Linked DNA regions of Homo sapiens: region 1 is linked to region 2. Evidence: fine-mapped expression QTL. Tissue or cell type: whole blood. Region 2 holds a variant in brackets; the other region holds the start of a gene. All regions are shown on one strand. Distances are from middle to middle.

Evidence for each region. PIP is the estimated chance that this variant, and not a neighbour inherited with it, causes the effect.
Region 1: PIK3CA starts here. The variant in region 2 is fine-mapped to the expression of PIK3CA in whole blood (INTERVAL, PIP 0.95).

Annotation. Positions count from the first base shown.
Region 1 is chr3:179,144,209-179,152,083 of GRCh38, forward strand. PIK3CA (phosphatidylinositol-4,5-bisphosphate 3-kinase catalytic subunit alpha) reads left to right here and starts at 4,149. Exons shown (of 21, transcript NM_006218.4): 1 at 4,149-4,395. PIK3CA-DT (PIK3CA divergent transcript) reads right to left here and starts at 3,765. Exons shown (of 3, transcript NR_125401.1): 1 at 3,708-3,765. RefSeq lists enhancers at 2,864-2,973, 3,584-3,703, 4,513-5,012, 5,574-5,623 and silencers at 4,194-4,663, 4,724-4,773.
Region 2 is chr3:179,034,948-179,042,822 of GRCh38, forward strand. The region is part of intron 2 of ZMAT3 (zinc finger matrin-type 3); the gene reads right to left. Among named protein-coding and RNA genes, the nearest start is that of ZMAT3, 33 kb to the right of the region's middle. The variant G/A (reference allele first, on the strand shown) is at 3,720.

The DNA of each region.
Region 1 (7,875 bases), 110 kb after region 2:
GGAATGAAGCAAAACATAAATGTAAATGGATACGTAAATATAAAAGATTATTTTTCCTCTTGAGTTCTATATGACTGTTGAAAGCAAAAATTATAAAAACATCTGATGGGGCTTCCATATATATAAATGTAATACATATGCCAACTAATGACATAAAGGTCAGGGAGTGGGGTAGGAGACAGTGGTAAATCTACACGGTTGCAAGGCTTCTTTCTACATTTTACTTGAAGTGGTGTAATAGTAATACTAAGTAGACCGCAAAACTTTAGGTATGTATATTATAATCCATAGAATTACCAAAAAATTACCAAGAAATATATTAAAACTACAATATAGAAATTAAAATGGAATATTAAAAATTTTTCAAATAATCCACAAGAAAGCAGGAAAGTAGAAACATAAAAACAAAAGTATAGAGGAAAAACAGAAAACAAATAATAAAATGGCAAGCCTAAATCCATATAATTACATTAAATGTAAATTAAACACAGCAATTAAAACACAGAAATTGTCAGATTGGAATTTTTAAAAAGAGATCTAATACGTGTTGTCTACGAGTAACTCACTTTAAATATAAAAATAGATATAAAAAAGATGGGAAAAAATACCATGGAAAAATTAATCAAAAAAAGCTGGACTGGCTGTATTAATATCAGACAAAGTAGATTTCAGAACAAAGATATTACTAGGAATAAAGAGAGATAGTACAGATTGATTAAAAAGAGTCAATGTATCAAAACACAAGAGTTCTAAATGTGTATACATCTAACAACAAAGCTTCAAAACACACAAAGTAAAAATACACAGAAGTGAAATGAGAAATAAAGAAATCCACAATTATATTTTGAAACATCAATGCTAACAAAATCATCAACTTGGTAAGAAACTACATTCTGCCCAACAATAGCAAACAAAATATTCTTTCATAAGTGCACATGGGACATTCACCAAGATATTCTGGGGCAACACAAATCTTAACTTGAAAAGAACTGAAATCTTAAAAGTACGTGTGTGTATGTGTGTGTGGGTGTATGGTTTTTTTTTTTTTAAGATGGAGTCTCGGTCAGGCGTGGTGGCTCACACCTGTAATCTCAGCACTTTGGGAGGCCAAGGCGGGCGGATCATGAGGTCAGGAGTTCAAGACCAGCCTGACCAATATGGTGAAACCCCGTCTCTACTAAAAATACAAAAATTAGCCGGGCGTGGTGGCACGTGCCTGTAGTCCCAGCTACTCGGAAGGCTGAGGCAGGAGAATCACTTGAACCTGGGAGGCAGAGGTTGCAGTGAGCCAAGATCGCGCCACTGCACTCCAGCCTGGGTGACAGAGCGAGACTCCATCTCAAAAAAAAAAAAAAAAAAAAAAAAACAGTGCTACATGGTAACTCATATCGTTATCTCTTGGTGTGTTTTTATTGTTTGACTTGGCAATTTTATACATCTAAAGTATACTGCTACATAATCAACTTGACTCTTATTTACAAAGGACTTCAAAGCTTAGTAGTGACTTAAGCGCTATTAGAGAATGTTTCGGTGCATATTTGAGTATCAGTTATGATTTTCAATGGAAATAAACCCAAAAGGCAAGTAACTGTCATTATAATTCTGATTATTAGAATAGAACAATAGCTACATACTGGACATTTCACCTCCCGTCTTTAGAACCCTTAGGATGCAATTATTTAATTTTGAAGTATACCATTTTTTGTTTCATTTACAGCCTGAGAATCATTATTTTTTTAAAACCTTCTTTCAGCTCCTAATCCTTGAGTGATGAGTTTGGTCATATAGATGCTTATATCATACAGATATTTTTATATCATATAGATATTTTAAACACTGAATAACATTGCAAAAACCTTTGAAAGCAAGATGACACCTAAGACCAATGGCTTACATATAAGGCAAACATTATCAACCGTGAATTGAATAGTAAATGCTACTCCTGTACCAATGAATGGTGTCATGCATTCAAGTACCAGGTATGGCTTTTTCTGCTATGACACACAACTTCTTAGGGGCAGATAATCACATAACAAAAAACATATTATGTAATTAGCATTTTCTTATTAAAAAATAAATTTTAGGCTGGGCATGTCGGCTGAAGTCTGTAATCCCAACACTTTGGGAGGCCGAGGTAGATGAATCTCTTGAGCCCAGGAGTTGGAGACCAGTCTGGGCAACGAAGCAAGACCCTGTCTTTACAAAAAATAAAACATTTTTAAAAATCACAAATAGGCCAGGTGCGGTGGCTTACGCCTGTAATCCTAGCACTCTGGGAAGTCGAGGGGGGTGGATCACCTGAAGTCAGAAGTTTGAGACCAGCCTGACCAACATGGTGAAACCCCGTCTCTACTAAGAAATACAAAAATTAGCTGGCATGTTGGCTGGTGCCTGTAATCCCAGCTACTCGGGAGGCTGAGGCAGAAGAATCGCTTGAACCCGGGAGGCAGAGGCTGCAGTGAGCCGAGACTGCACCGCTGAACTCCAGCCTGGGCTACAGAGTGAGACTCTGGCTCAAAAAAATAATAATAATAAATAAATAATAAATTTTATAAGGAAAAATATCCCTAGTATATTTTTCCCCACCAAGGTCTACCTATTAATATCTCATATAACTCTGTGCTTGAAACACAATTTGGGATATATTGCCTTAAAATTTACTTTGACTAGCAATTCAGTGTTCCTTTTTTAAAAAAATCTGTACTCTGGAGTAACAGTGTTCTAAAACTGTTGAAGAACATTGGTTCGAGAAAAACATTTAGAAACACAAACCCCTGGAATGTGAGATGAAAATCCGAGCTAAAGGGAGAAAAAGGACGAAAGAAAGAAAACACAGAAAAGAAAGAAATACAGTCAAGTGAAACTACGACCACAAAGAGGAACAGATCCATCTCATTTACCATTGGGGTATGGACGGACGTGCGGTGTTCGAGAAGACTGTTATTGGTCAGAGTTTTGCTCTAGAGGACAAGTAGGACTGTAACATCTCTAGGATGGGTCACTTCCCAAGCCCTCTATTACTTAAAAATTCAAGGAGGAACCGATGCTGGAGTACTTGTATCTCAGACTTCTAATCACTGCTCCTACGCTTTTCCAATATTACAACAAAAGACCAGTAGGGGGAGAAAAACGCACAGTACCGAACCCTTATCAGTAGTAATCTCAAAAGTCAACAGATTGATTTACTCTCAAGCAAACAGACTTCTAAGGTACGCAGCACCAAGACACTACCTTGAATCAAATCTATAGCCTATATGACATTTCTGAAGTCTCTGTTGGCATTACGCGAAAAATCCCCCACGTCTTCTGAATAGTTAGAATTGAATCCTACAAGCTGCTTCGAATCAGAATTCGATTTAAAAAAAAAAATGAGGGCATAGCAAAAGGTCTCCACGAAGTGAGTCAAAGGACTGCAGAGGGCTGTGACAGTGCATTCCGCCTTCGGGATGGTATACAACTTAAACCATGTCGGCAGAAGAACGCACAGCAACGCTTTGTAAAAAGCATTCTTTCTATTATAGAATCCATAACCACGCTGGTTAGCCACTGACAGCGGCGGTTAGCCACCGCACCTCCTCTCACCCCCGAACTAATCTCGTTTCCTCTATGGGTGTAAAAGTGAAATAACCCACTTGCTCCCAATATTCCTTTCTATATCTCTACCCCAGCTCGCCTGCTGCTCGTAGAAACAAATATACTACACGTACGCTGTCCTAGGATGACACAACACCCTCACTACTGCAGAAGACGGATCATTAAACAAACGTCAGAAGAGCAGCCCCAACTGTACATAAACTTCGGGCGGAAAAGCAAGACGCAGGCGCAGTAGCACATATTGTTACCCTATTTGCCCACTCCCTGCTCCTCCTCGCCTCAATTTCGCTTCCGCTTCTTTGCGCATCTGCTTCCGGGGGATTGTAGGCTCTGCCCCTCCTCAGCTCTTACCCTCTTCTGCCGGAGGAGGGGGGGGGCCGAGGGGGTGGGGAAGAGTTCGTTGTTTGTTTACACGATGTGAGCGGAAAAAGAGACCAATAAAGTTTATTCTGGAAACAAAAGGAAAAAAAAACAGGGGCGACGGAGAAAGGAGTCGGGGGCGGGGGCGTGTGGCGGGGGCTAGCGAGGAGAGGGAGCGAGAAGTAGAAAGCGGCAGTTCCGGTGCCGCCGCTGCGGCCGCTGAGGTGTCGGGCTGCTGCTGCCGCGGCCGCTGGGACTGGGGCTGGGGCCGCCGGCGAGGCAGGGCTCGGGCCCGGCCGGGCAGCTCCGGAGCGGCGGGGGAGAGGGGCCGGGAGGCGGGGGCCGTGCCGCCCGCTCTCCTCTCCCTCGGCGCCGCCGCCGCCGCCCGCGGGGCTGGGACCCGATGCGGTTAGAGCCGCGGAGCCTGGAAGAGCCCCGAGCGTGAGTAGAGCGCGGACTGGCCGGTAGCGGGTGCGGTGGGAATGGGGACCGGGTGGGTGCCGGAGACTCCCGGGCGCGCCCGCCGTGTTGGGCGGAGGCTACGGGCTGGTCGTCTCCCAGCGTCGGCCCGCGGCGGAGTTCGCCTGCGATCGCCGCACCCTCTCCCTCGCCTGCCTCTGGCCTCTCCTAGCTGCAGAGGCGAGGGCTCGCCGCTCCCTCTCCTTTCTCTCTGGCTGCCGCCTCGCTCTTCCTTTGCTTCTACTCCCAGTTTTGGGGACGGGGCGGCTGGAGGTTGAGGAAGTGCGCCCAGGGCCGCCGCCCCGGCCGCGGTGGCTCTGTCTCCCGCGCCCTGCACGCCCACCCAGCCCGCGGGTGGAGGGGCTGCCGCGAGGACTGCGGCTCAAGGGACGCGGGCGCGAAACCGCGAGCTTTTCTTGAGGGGCTGTCACGCCCGAGGACTCCGGCCCCGCCAGCCTGGCGGCCCTGCGTTTGCCTCTTACTGGGTTTAAATCGCCCGGCAGGGGTATGGAAGGAACACCGCTCCCCTCACCCCCGCCAGCTCCCCTCCCACCCTTCCTTTCGAGGTTGTTTTTTCCTTTTAGCTGAGACAAACGCTTAGATCTTTCATTCATAGACCTGAGACACTGACTCATGTGACTTGTCTCTTTACTAAGTGTATTATGTGATGCCTGTTCCATGGCTCTTAAGTGGCTCGGAAAGGTAGGGTAGGGCCCGGGATTGGGCTATGTAAACACCAGACGTTCAGCCGGCGTGTTTTTGACCTCGGCTCGAGGGGTTTATTTTAGGATGCTAAAGGAATAGTGATGGTGGCCAACCGTGTTACCAGACTTGGGAATCGAAAGCTATTTTTTTATGTCAATAATTGAGACTGTTTACATGGTTAAATAAAGGGTAGGGTAAAGGGAGCGCAACAAGAGGGTCTTTCTAGAAAACAGTCTGCATATTCTTTAATGAATTAGAGTTGTGATTTCATCTTGGTGAAGCTTCCTCATTCCAGCACTGCGCCTTTGTGCACATGCAGGACCTGGGTTTTCGGAACGATGTTTTGAATCATAGTTTGTGTGGCCGGGGAGAACCCCTTAGAATACTTGGGTAGGTAAATTCCAGGTTATCTCAGGGGATTATTTCTACTGCGACTTTTGAACCACTGAGGGCAATATTGGTCATATGTTATCCTGCTTAGAAATTGAATTTTTCTGAGTATTTGCTTACATTGCACCGTACAAAATTTGTTTATGTGCTGGATTGCGTGTTTTAAGAAAACTTCTGGAAAATACTCAAAATACCGTGTTGCTAAGTTAGTTTGGATAAATCAAAACACTTTGCTTTCAAAGCAACTACAGTCTTAACAATTTAACGTGTCTTTGTATTCAGGTTTTAAGTTTTTGGTGTTTTTTTTTTTTCCTTTTAACTGAAGCACTGAGGTCCGATTGACAGCATAGATCTCCATCTAAACATCACATGTTCTGGAAATTTTTAATTATCAGATTAACTGTTCTGCAGTGTCATCAGCCAAAATTATCTGAAGAGGACTGTGTGTGTTTACGTGTGTGTGTGTGTGTGTGTGTGTGTGTGTGTTGGTATTTTGCTTAAGTTTTTTCATCTCACATTTTGGGACAAAATAAAACTTCATAGCTTTTTTCAAAAGTTTCTTGTGCTTTTTCAAACTAGAGTACTTTCCTATTAAAATCACAAAATAGTTTATTTAAAAATGATAGCATATCGTAATAATAGCATCATGGGGGAAATAACAAGAAAGTAAAGGAATATTAATATTGCATGATTGTGCGTATAAAGTTTTAAAGACATTCCTGTCAGTTTTAAATAATTAAAAATGAAACACCTGTAAATATAGAAGAGTGTTTTTATTTAAGGTTAAAAAAATTTAACTAAATTGGTTATAGCATTAAAGAGATGTTACTAAATACAAATATTGTACTTAAACTGAAAAATGGCTTCATGGAAGTGTAAATTGTCATGGGCCTTGATATATTTAAAAGGGAGACTAAAAGTGCAGTGGTTTTGCTTGCTCTGTGCGTGGAACAGCCTTTCTGGTGGCAGAGCTTCCTTCCTGTCAGGATAAGGTCCTCTCCATCCCAAATCAGTATCCCCTTAAAAAACCAAAGAAAAAACCCAAACTTATAAATAATGCACAACATAAAGTAGACTGTAATAACTTTTTCTCTAAACCAGTTTACTTTGTGTGCCGCTTCTTATAAGTACCCTTTACTGAATAAAGAGTTTTAAACAGTTACGATTACCATTTAAAGGGCACTTGCTCTGTTGATCTGTTTATTTGAAGAGAGGTAACTTAATCCCATTTGATCTCTTGAGCAGCTACAGTAGCATTAAAAGGATCAGTTCTCTATTTTGTTATTTTATATCTTGAATTCCAAGATAGGGGTGATTCTTTAAATGAAGTGTTTCTTAAGCATTATAAAATATTTCATCTCCAGTGAAAGTATTTACAATCTTAAAAATTATTCAGCTTTAGAAGTATATGTCTTAGAATATCATGGTTTACATTTTATTAGCACAGTTATCAAATAGTTTTTCTTAAGTATTACCTTGAGCTATATTAACAGTGCCGTAGACAGAGTGGTATTACTATCCCTAAGAAATGGTATTCTAATCTGAAGTCAGTTGGCAGGTGACAGACTCATTGACAAAACCAACATTTTCCGACTCCTTTCACTGTATCATGCTGCGTCTAATCTCCAGCCTGTTTTTTAATAGAACTGAAGAAATTAGGGCCCAAGGAGGCTTAATTACTGAAGATCTCCATTTCCTATATTTGCAGTAATATCTTTATTTAATTTCCTTTACATCATGAACAGTGGTTTTCAATCCTGGCTACACATTAGAATAATCTAGGGAGCTTTTTAAAAGTACTCTGGTCTCATCCCCAGAGATGCTCATTTAATTGGTCTGAGATGGATCCCAGTTATCTGTGTTTTGTTTTGTTTGTTTTGAAGTTCACCAGGAAATGCTAATAGAAAAGGATGTAAAGCCCTGGCTGTCAAGGACCTGTATATTTGGTCCTTGCTTCTTTCTCTAGGTTTATTTCTCCTCCCTACTCCTGCAGCTCCCTTGGTCTTTTCATACTCTCCTGTGCAAATACAGTTTGTACTTCCTGAGACATTTGAACACTCCATTCTTCTTTAACTGGTTGACTCCTACTCATCTTTCACATCACCTCCTTTGAAAAGTCTAGCTTGAGTTAGGTATCCCTGCTTCCTGTTCCCATAGCATCGTGTACTCCCACTGTCATAGCATTAACCTCACTGCATTGTAATTGCCTATTTCTTTGTCCATATCCTCTACCAGGCTGTAAATTCCATGAGGATAGGGACTCCTATCTTATATACTGTACAGTAGTATTCTTATTGCCAAGCACAGTAGCCTGTACATTACAGCACTTGACTAAACAAATAAATATAGTAGAGACAGACTTCTTTA
Region 2 (7,875 bases):
TAGGTAACAGTGGTCATTTGCAGTAGGTAACAACTCCTAATTGGTCTCTGCTGTTAATCTTGTCCTCCTAGAATTCTCCTCATTATAAACCCAAGTAATAATTCTTGACATGAATCAGTTCCATGTCACTCCCTCACATAAAACTCTTCCAATGGCTTTCTGCTATACTTAAAATTGACAAATCTTACCTATAAGGCCCTACACGATCTGGCCCTGTCTAACTGACAAATCTCACCTATAAGGCCCTACATGTTCTGGCCCCATCTAATTGACAAATCTTACCTATAAGGCCCTACATGATCTGGCCCCGTCTATCTCTTGGGCCTTATGTCAGACAGCACTCCTTCCTTTCCCCTGCTCATTATGCTCCTGGCTCACTAGGCTGCATGTGCTCCTTAAACATGCCAAGCTCAGGCTAGCTCCAAGGCCTTTGTACTTAACTGTTCCTTTTGCCTAGAATGTACCTCTTGCAGATCTCTGTATGGATTGCTCCTTCTAATCTTTCAAGTCTCAACTCAAACTGGACCTCACTCACTCTCAAGTGTCACAACCACTCCCCCTCTCCACACCACACACACTCCATCATATTACCACACTGGCCGGTTTTATTTTATCTTAGTATCACTAATCACTATCTAAAATAATATAGTTTGTTGACTTGTTTTTTTTTCTCTTTCCTCCGCTCTGTAATGTAGACTTCTTGAAAATGAGGACCTCATCTGTCTTGTTTACTGTTCTAATCCCAATGCCTAGAATAGTTTCCAGAATATAGCAAGCAAGCAATAAATAACTGTTGGATAAATGAACCAAGTATTATAATGAAGATAATAAACTGCTAGGAGAACACAGAGAAGGAATTTCTTACTCCTGCCTGAATGTATCACGGAAGACTTCCCTGAAAAGGGGGCAACTGACTCATCTTTTTAAATGAGCAAATGTTTACAGGGGAGGTAAGCAATACGGAAAAAGAAAACTGTGCACCAAGAAAATAGCATGAGCAAAAGCCCAGCCTTCTGTGTTGAGGGGCTACAAGGAGAGATAACGGTCTTCTAGATCCTTTGGAGGAGAGGCAAAAATTGAAATACACAGGGGGCTCATTCTTAATGCCTTTGCCCATGATAAAGAACTTGGACTTCAGAGGCAGCAGGGAGCCTCTGAGGAACTTTAAGCAAAGCAGTGCATGACTTGATTGTATTTGATAAAGATGAGCATCAGGGTAGCAGACCAAAGCTGGAAGCTGGGAAGATACACAGAGGAGAGTCAAGGACAAAATCCTAGACACTACAACATAGAGTCTAGTAGAGAATGAAGATCCAGAAAATGAGATTGACAAGGTCTAGCCAAAAAGTAAGATAAAAATCAGATAGTATGTTATCATAGAAGCCCACAACCAAACTGGAGTTCAAGAGTGTGGTCAGGATGAAGACAGACTCTCAGGAATGATCTGAATGTGGATGGTATTTAAAGCTATGGAGCCAAAAACTATCACCTAGACAGAGTGGAGACAGATAACAGCTTGCAAAATGGGCCTCAAGCAAGATAATGGCTAGATAAAGGAGAAAGACGCAGGAACTATGAAGAAGGTAAGAACAAGTAATAGCATATTGGATAAGAGGGTAGAAGGGAGGTGAACCGCAGGGTAGATGGAAATATTTATGAAAAATTTTTAAAGGTGTGGGGAGGAAAAAAGGCTTTGGGGAAGAAGATAGAGTCAACAATCTCAATCTCAATATGAGATTGAGACAACCGAAAGACATCTTAATGAATCCAAGAGACAGTGCAATGTGTGGCTTAGTGACAGCAACTGGAGACAGACAAATTCCTAGGCAGACAGGGATGGGTCCCTGTGAAACCCAACCTCATGCCAAAGACAGTTTAAAGACTGAAAACTGAGCTGCCAGTTGCAGGTGGAGTCCACAACGAGAGTGAGAACTTCCTCGATGCCTTTTAGGCAATCAAATGGTGCTTTTTCCAAGCCGACCCGTGAACCAATCAGCACGCACTCCCCCATTCTGAGCCCATAAAAATCCCAGACTCAACCCCACAGATGGCAAACCTCTTTTGGGTCCCCTCTCACACACAGGGCTAATCACTCTTGGGCCCCCTCTCTGCTGAGAGCTTTCCTTCTATTGCTCAATGAAATTCTTCTCCACCCTATTCACTCTCCAGTGTCCATGTACCTTATTCCTCTTATTCCTCTTGGTCGCAGGAGAAGAACCCAGAATAGGCCAACCTGTAACACACACCCATTCACTGAGCTGCGGGTGGTGGGACCGACTGAGCTGTAACATGCCCCTGTTCGCCAAGCTGCAGGTGGCAGGAACAATACAAAGCTGCAACATTTCTTGGGAGGTCAAATCTTGGGACTCCCCGGATGAGAGCTGTAACACCCCTTGGGACTCTGCCATTACTGACATCTCTGAGTTTTCGGGCACCACCCACATTCCCCTCATCTAGACAACGACACCCAATGCAGAAGCTGCTGGCAACACACCCAGTGGAGCCATGGGCTGAGTGCAGATCCCTCAGCGGGCGCAGGATCCAGGCCAAGGCACAAGCCGAGCACAGCCTGCCAGGCTGAGTGGGCGGAGTGAGCTCGGTGGAATGAGGCCCCAGGCAGAGGACACAGCACCCACAGAGATTTCCGGCTGGTGAAGCAGCACCAAAGGAATCCTTACACTGCAACCCTCCCTCCTGCTCACTGAGCAACGGGGAAAAAAAGCCAGTGTGCCATTTCCTCCCGCTTGCTGAACTACAAAAGCTGCAACATTAGCACTAAGGAAGTCAAGGCTAAGAAGGTTTAGAAGTCTTCTAAAAACAGGTGAGAATTTGAATCTACAACTCTGGCGGAAGATAACAGGGTTAAATAGTTACTGACTACCCTCTATGTTCTGGCAACCATTCTAAGAAAAGGAGATAAAACAGTGAACAAAGGCAAAGTCTCTGCCCTCAAGAAGCTTTTCTAGGGGACATAAACAGAATATATACATGTACATATATATATGTACACACACACAACCAAAGAAAAAAGAGTTACTGACAACTGCTCTGCAAAAAATAAAACAGGATGATATAATAGATAATGGACAGGGAGAGAGTGGGGTGGGCCGACAAGGCTTTTCTGGGGAGATACATGTCAGCTAAAAGCTGAAGCATGAGATGGCTCCAGCCATGCAATGTAGAGAAAGGGGGAAGAGCTGGGCATCAAGAGACCCACTTGCTGTGTTAAGTCTGAGATCCCTTTCAGATGTCCAAAGAGAGACCAACCTGGAGTTTACGAACGAGGTCAGGTTAGAGATAGAATCTGAGGAGTTATCAGTATGTAGGTGGAATTTAAAACCATGGAACTAGGGCCAGGCACAGTGGCTCATGCCTATAATCCCAGCACTTTGGGAGGCTGAGGCAGAAGGATCACTTGAGTCTAAGACTTTGAGACCAAACTGGGCAAAATGACAAAACCCCATCTCTAAAAAAAGAAAAATGAGGCAGGCATGGTGGTGCAAACCTATGGTCCCAGCTGCTGGGAGCACTGAGATGGAAGGATCAGTTAAACCCAGAAGGTTGAGGTTGCAGTGAGCCATGACTGCAATGCTACACTCCAGCTGGGTGACAGAGCGAGACCCTGTCTCAAAAAATAAAATAAAATACAAGATGGCCAAATAGGAACAGCTCTGGTCTGCAGCTCCCAGCGTGATCAATGCAGCAGACGGGTGATATCC[G/A]CATTTTGAACTGAGGTACCTGGTTCACCTCACTGGGACTGGTTGTACAGTGGGTGCAGCCCACAGAGGACGAACTGAAGCAGGGTGGGGTGTTACCTCAACCGGGAAGCCAAGAGGTCAGGGGATTTCCCTTTCCTAGCCAAGAGAAGCCGTGACGGACTGCACCTGGAAAAACAGGACACTTCTGCCCAAATACTGCGCTTTTCCCAAGGTCTTAGCAACCGGAAAACAAGGAGATACTCTCCCGTGCCTGGCTTGGCAGGTCCCACGTCCACAGAGCCTCACTCACTGCTAGCGCAGCAGTCTGAGATCAAACTGCAAGGCAGCAGCCTGGCTGGGGGAGGGGCCTCAGCCATTGCTGAGGCTTGAGTAGGTAAACAAAGTGGCTGGGAAGCTCGAACTGGGCAGAGCCCACCACAGCTCAACAAGGCCTACTGCCTCCAGACTCCACCTCAGTGGGCAGGGCTTAGCTGAACAAAAGGCAGCAGACAACTTCTGCAAAGTTCAATGTCCCTTTCTGACAGCTCTGAAGAGAGCAGTGGTTCTCCCAACATGGTGTTTGAGCTCTGAGAATGGACAGACTGCCTCTTCAAGTGGCTCCTTGACCTCCATGTAGCCTAACTGGGAGACACGTCCCAGTAAGGGCCAACAGTCACCTCATATAGATGGGTGCCCCTCTGGGATGCAGATTCCGGAGGAAGGATCAGGCAGCAATATTTGCTGTTCTGCAATATTTGCTGTTCTGCAGCCTCCGCTGGTGATACCCAGGCAAACCGGGTCTGGAGTGGACCTCCAGCAAACTCCAACAGACCTGCAGCTGAGGGACCTATTAGAAGGAAAACTAACAAACAGAAAGGAATAGCATCAACATCAACAAAAAGAACGTCTACACCAAAACCCCATCTGTAGGTCACCAACATCAAAGACCAAAGGTAGATAAAACCAAAAAGATGGGGAGAAACCAGAGCAGAAAAGCTGAAAATTCTAAAAATCAGAGTGCCTCCTCTCCAAAGGATCATAGTTCCTCACCAGCAATGGAACAAAGCTGGACAAAGAATGACTCTGACGAGGTGACAGAAGTAGACTTCAGAAGGTCAGTAATAACAAACTTCTCCAAGCTAAAGGAGCATGTTCGAACCCATCGCAAGGAAGCTAAAAACCTTGAAAAAAGGTTAGACGAATGGCTAACTAGAATAAACACTGTAGAGAAGACCTTAAATGACTGATGGAGCTGAAAACCATGGCATGGGAACTTCGTGACACATGCACAAGCTTCAATAGCCAATTCGATCTAGTGGAAGAAAGGGTATCAGTGATTGAAGATCAAATTAATTAATGAAATAAAGCAAGAAGACATGGTTAGAAAAAAAGAGTAAAAAGAAATGAACAAAGCCTCCAAGAAATATGGGACTATGTGAAAAGACCAAATCTACGTTTGATTGGTGTACCTGAAAGTGATAGGGAGAATGGAACCAAGTTGGAAAACACTCTTCAGGATATTATCCAGGAGAACTTCCCCAACCTAGCAAGGCAGGCCAACATTCAAATTCAGGAAATACAGGGAATGCCACAAAGATACTCCTTGGGAAGAGCAACCCCAAGACATGTAATTGTCACATTCACCACGGTTGAAATGAAGGAAAAAATGTTAAGGGCAGCCAGAGAGAAAGGTCGAGTTACCCACAAAGGGAAACCCATCAGACTAACAGCGGATCTCTCGGCAGAAACCCTACAAGCCAGAAAAGAGTGGGGGCCGATATTCAACTTCCTTAAAGAAAAGAATTTTCAACCCAGAATTTCATATCCAGCCAAACTAAGCTTCATAAGTGAAGGAGAAATGAAATCCTTTACAGACAAGCAAATGCTGAGAGATTTTGTCACCACCAGGCCTGCCTTACAAGAGTTCCTGAAGGAAGCACTAAACATAGAAACAACCGGTAACAACCACTGCAAAAACTGCCAAATTATAAAGACCATCGATGCTATGAAAAAACTGCATCAATTAATGGGCAAAACAACCAGCAAACATCATGACAGGATCAAATTCACACATAACAATACTAACCTTAAATGTAAATGAGCTAAATGCCCCAATTAAAAGACACAGACTGGCAAATTGGATAAAGAGTCACAACCCATCAGTGTGCTGTATTCAGGAGACCCATCTCATGTGCAAAGACACACAGAGGCTCAAAATAAAGGGATGGAGGAAGATCTACCAAGCAAATGGAAAGCAAAAAAAAAAAAAAAGCAGGGGTAACAATCCTACTCTCCGATAAAACAGACTTTAAATCAACAAAGATCAAAAGAGACAAAGAAGGGCATTACATAATGGTAAAGGGATCAATTCAATGAGAAGAGCTAACTATCCTAAATATATATGCACCCAATACAGGAGCACCCAGATTCATAAAGCAAGTCCTCAGAGACCCACAAAGAGACTTAGACTCCCACACAATAATAATAGGAGACTTTAACATCCCACTGTCAATATTAGACAGATTAATGAGACACAAGGTTAACAAGCATATACAGGACTTGAACTCAGCTCTGCACCAAGCAGACCTAATAGGTATCTACAGAACTCTCCACCCCAAATCAACATAATATACATTCTTCTCAGCACCACATCACACTTATTCTAAAATTGACCACATAATTGGAAGTAAAGTATTCCTCAGCAAATGTAAAAGAACAGAAATCACAACAAACTGCATCTCAGACCACAGTGCAATCAAATTAGAACTCAGGATTAAGAAACTCACTCAAAACTGCACAACTACATGGAAACTGAACAACTTGCTCCTGAATGACTACTGGGTAAATAACGAAATGAAGGCAGAAATAAAGATGTTCTTTGAAACAAATGAGAACAAAAACTCAACGTACCAGAGTCTCTGGGACACATTTAAAGCAGTGTGGTAGAGGGAAATTTATAGCACTAAATGCCCACAAGAGAAAGCAGGAAAGATCTAAAATTGACACCCTAACATTACAATTAAAAGAACTAGAGAAGTAAGAGCAAACAAATTCAAAGGCTAGCAGAAGGCAAGAAATAACTAAGATCAGAGCAGAACTGAAAGAGACAGACACACAAAAATCCCTTCAAAAAATCACTGAATCCAGGAGCTGTTTTTTTTAAAAGATCAACAAAATTGAGAGACCACTAGCAAGACTAATAAAGAAGAAAAGAGAGAAGAATCAAATAGATGCAATAAAAAAATGATAAAGGGGATGTCACCACCGATCCCACAGAAATACAAACTACCATCAGTGAATACTATAAACACCTCTACGCAAACGAACTAGAAAATCTAGAAGAAATGGATAAACTCCTGGGCACATACACCCTCCCAAGACTAATCCAGGAAGAAGTTGAATCTCTGAATAGACCAGTAACAGGCTCTGAAATTGAGGCAATAATTAATAGCCTACCAATCAAAAAAAGTCCAGGGCCAGACAGATTCACAGCCGAATTCTACCAGAGGTACAAAGAGGAGCTGGTACCATTCCTTCTGAAACTATTCCAATCAATAAAAAGAGGGAACTCATTTTATGAGGCCAACATCATCCCGACACCAAAGCCTGGAAGAGATACAACAAAAACCAGAGAACTTTAGACCAATATCCCTGATAAACATGGATGCGAAAATCCTCAATAAAATACTGGCAAACCGAATCCAGCAGCGTATCAAAAAGCTTATCCACCATGATCAGGTCAGCTTCATCCCTGGGATGCAAGGCTGGTTCAACATACACAAATCAAAAAACATAATCCATCACATAAACAGAACCAATGACAAAAACCACATGATTATCTCAATAGAGGCAGAAAAGGCCTTTGACAAAACTCAACAGCCTTCATGCCAAAAACTCTCAATAAATTAGGTATTGATGGAACGTATCTCAAAATAATAAGAGCTATTTATGACAAACCCACAGCCAATATCACACTGAATGGGCAAAAACTGGAAGCATTCTCTTTGAAAACTGGCACAAGACAAGGATGCCCTCTCTCACCACTCCTATTCAACATAGTGTTGGAAGTTCTGGCCAGGGCAATCAGGCAAGAGAAAGAAATAAAGGGTATTCAATTAGGAGAAGAGGAAGTCAAATTGTCCCTGCTTGCAGATGACATGATTGTATATTTAGAAAA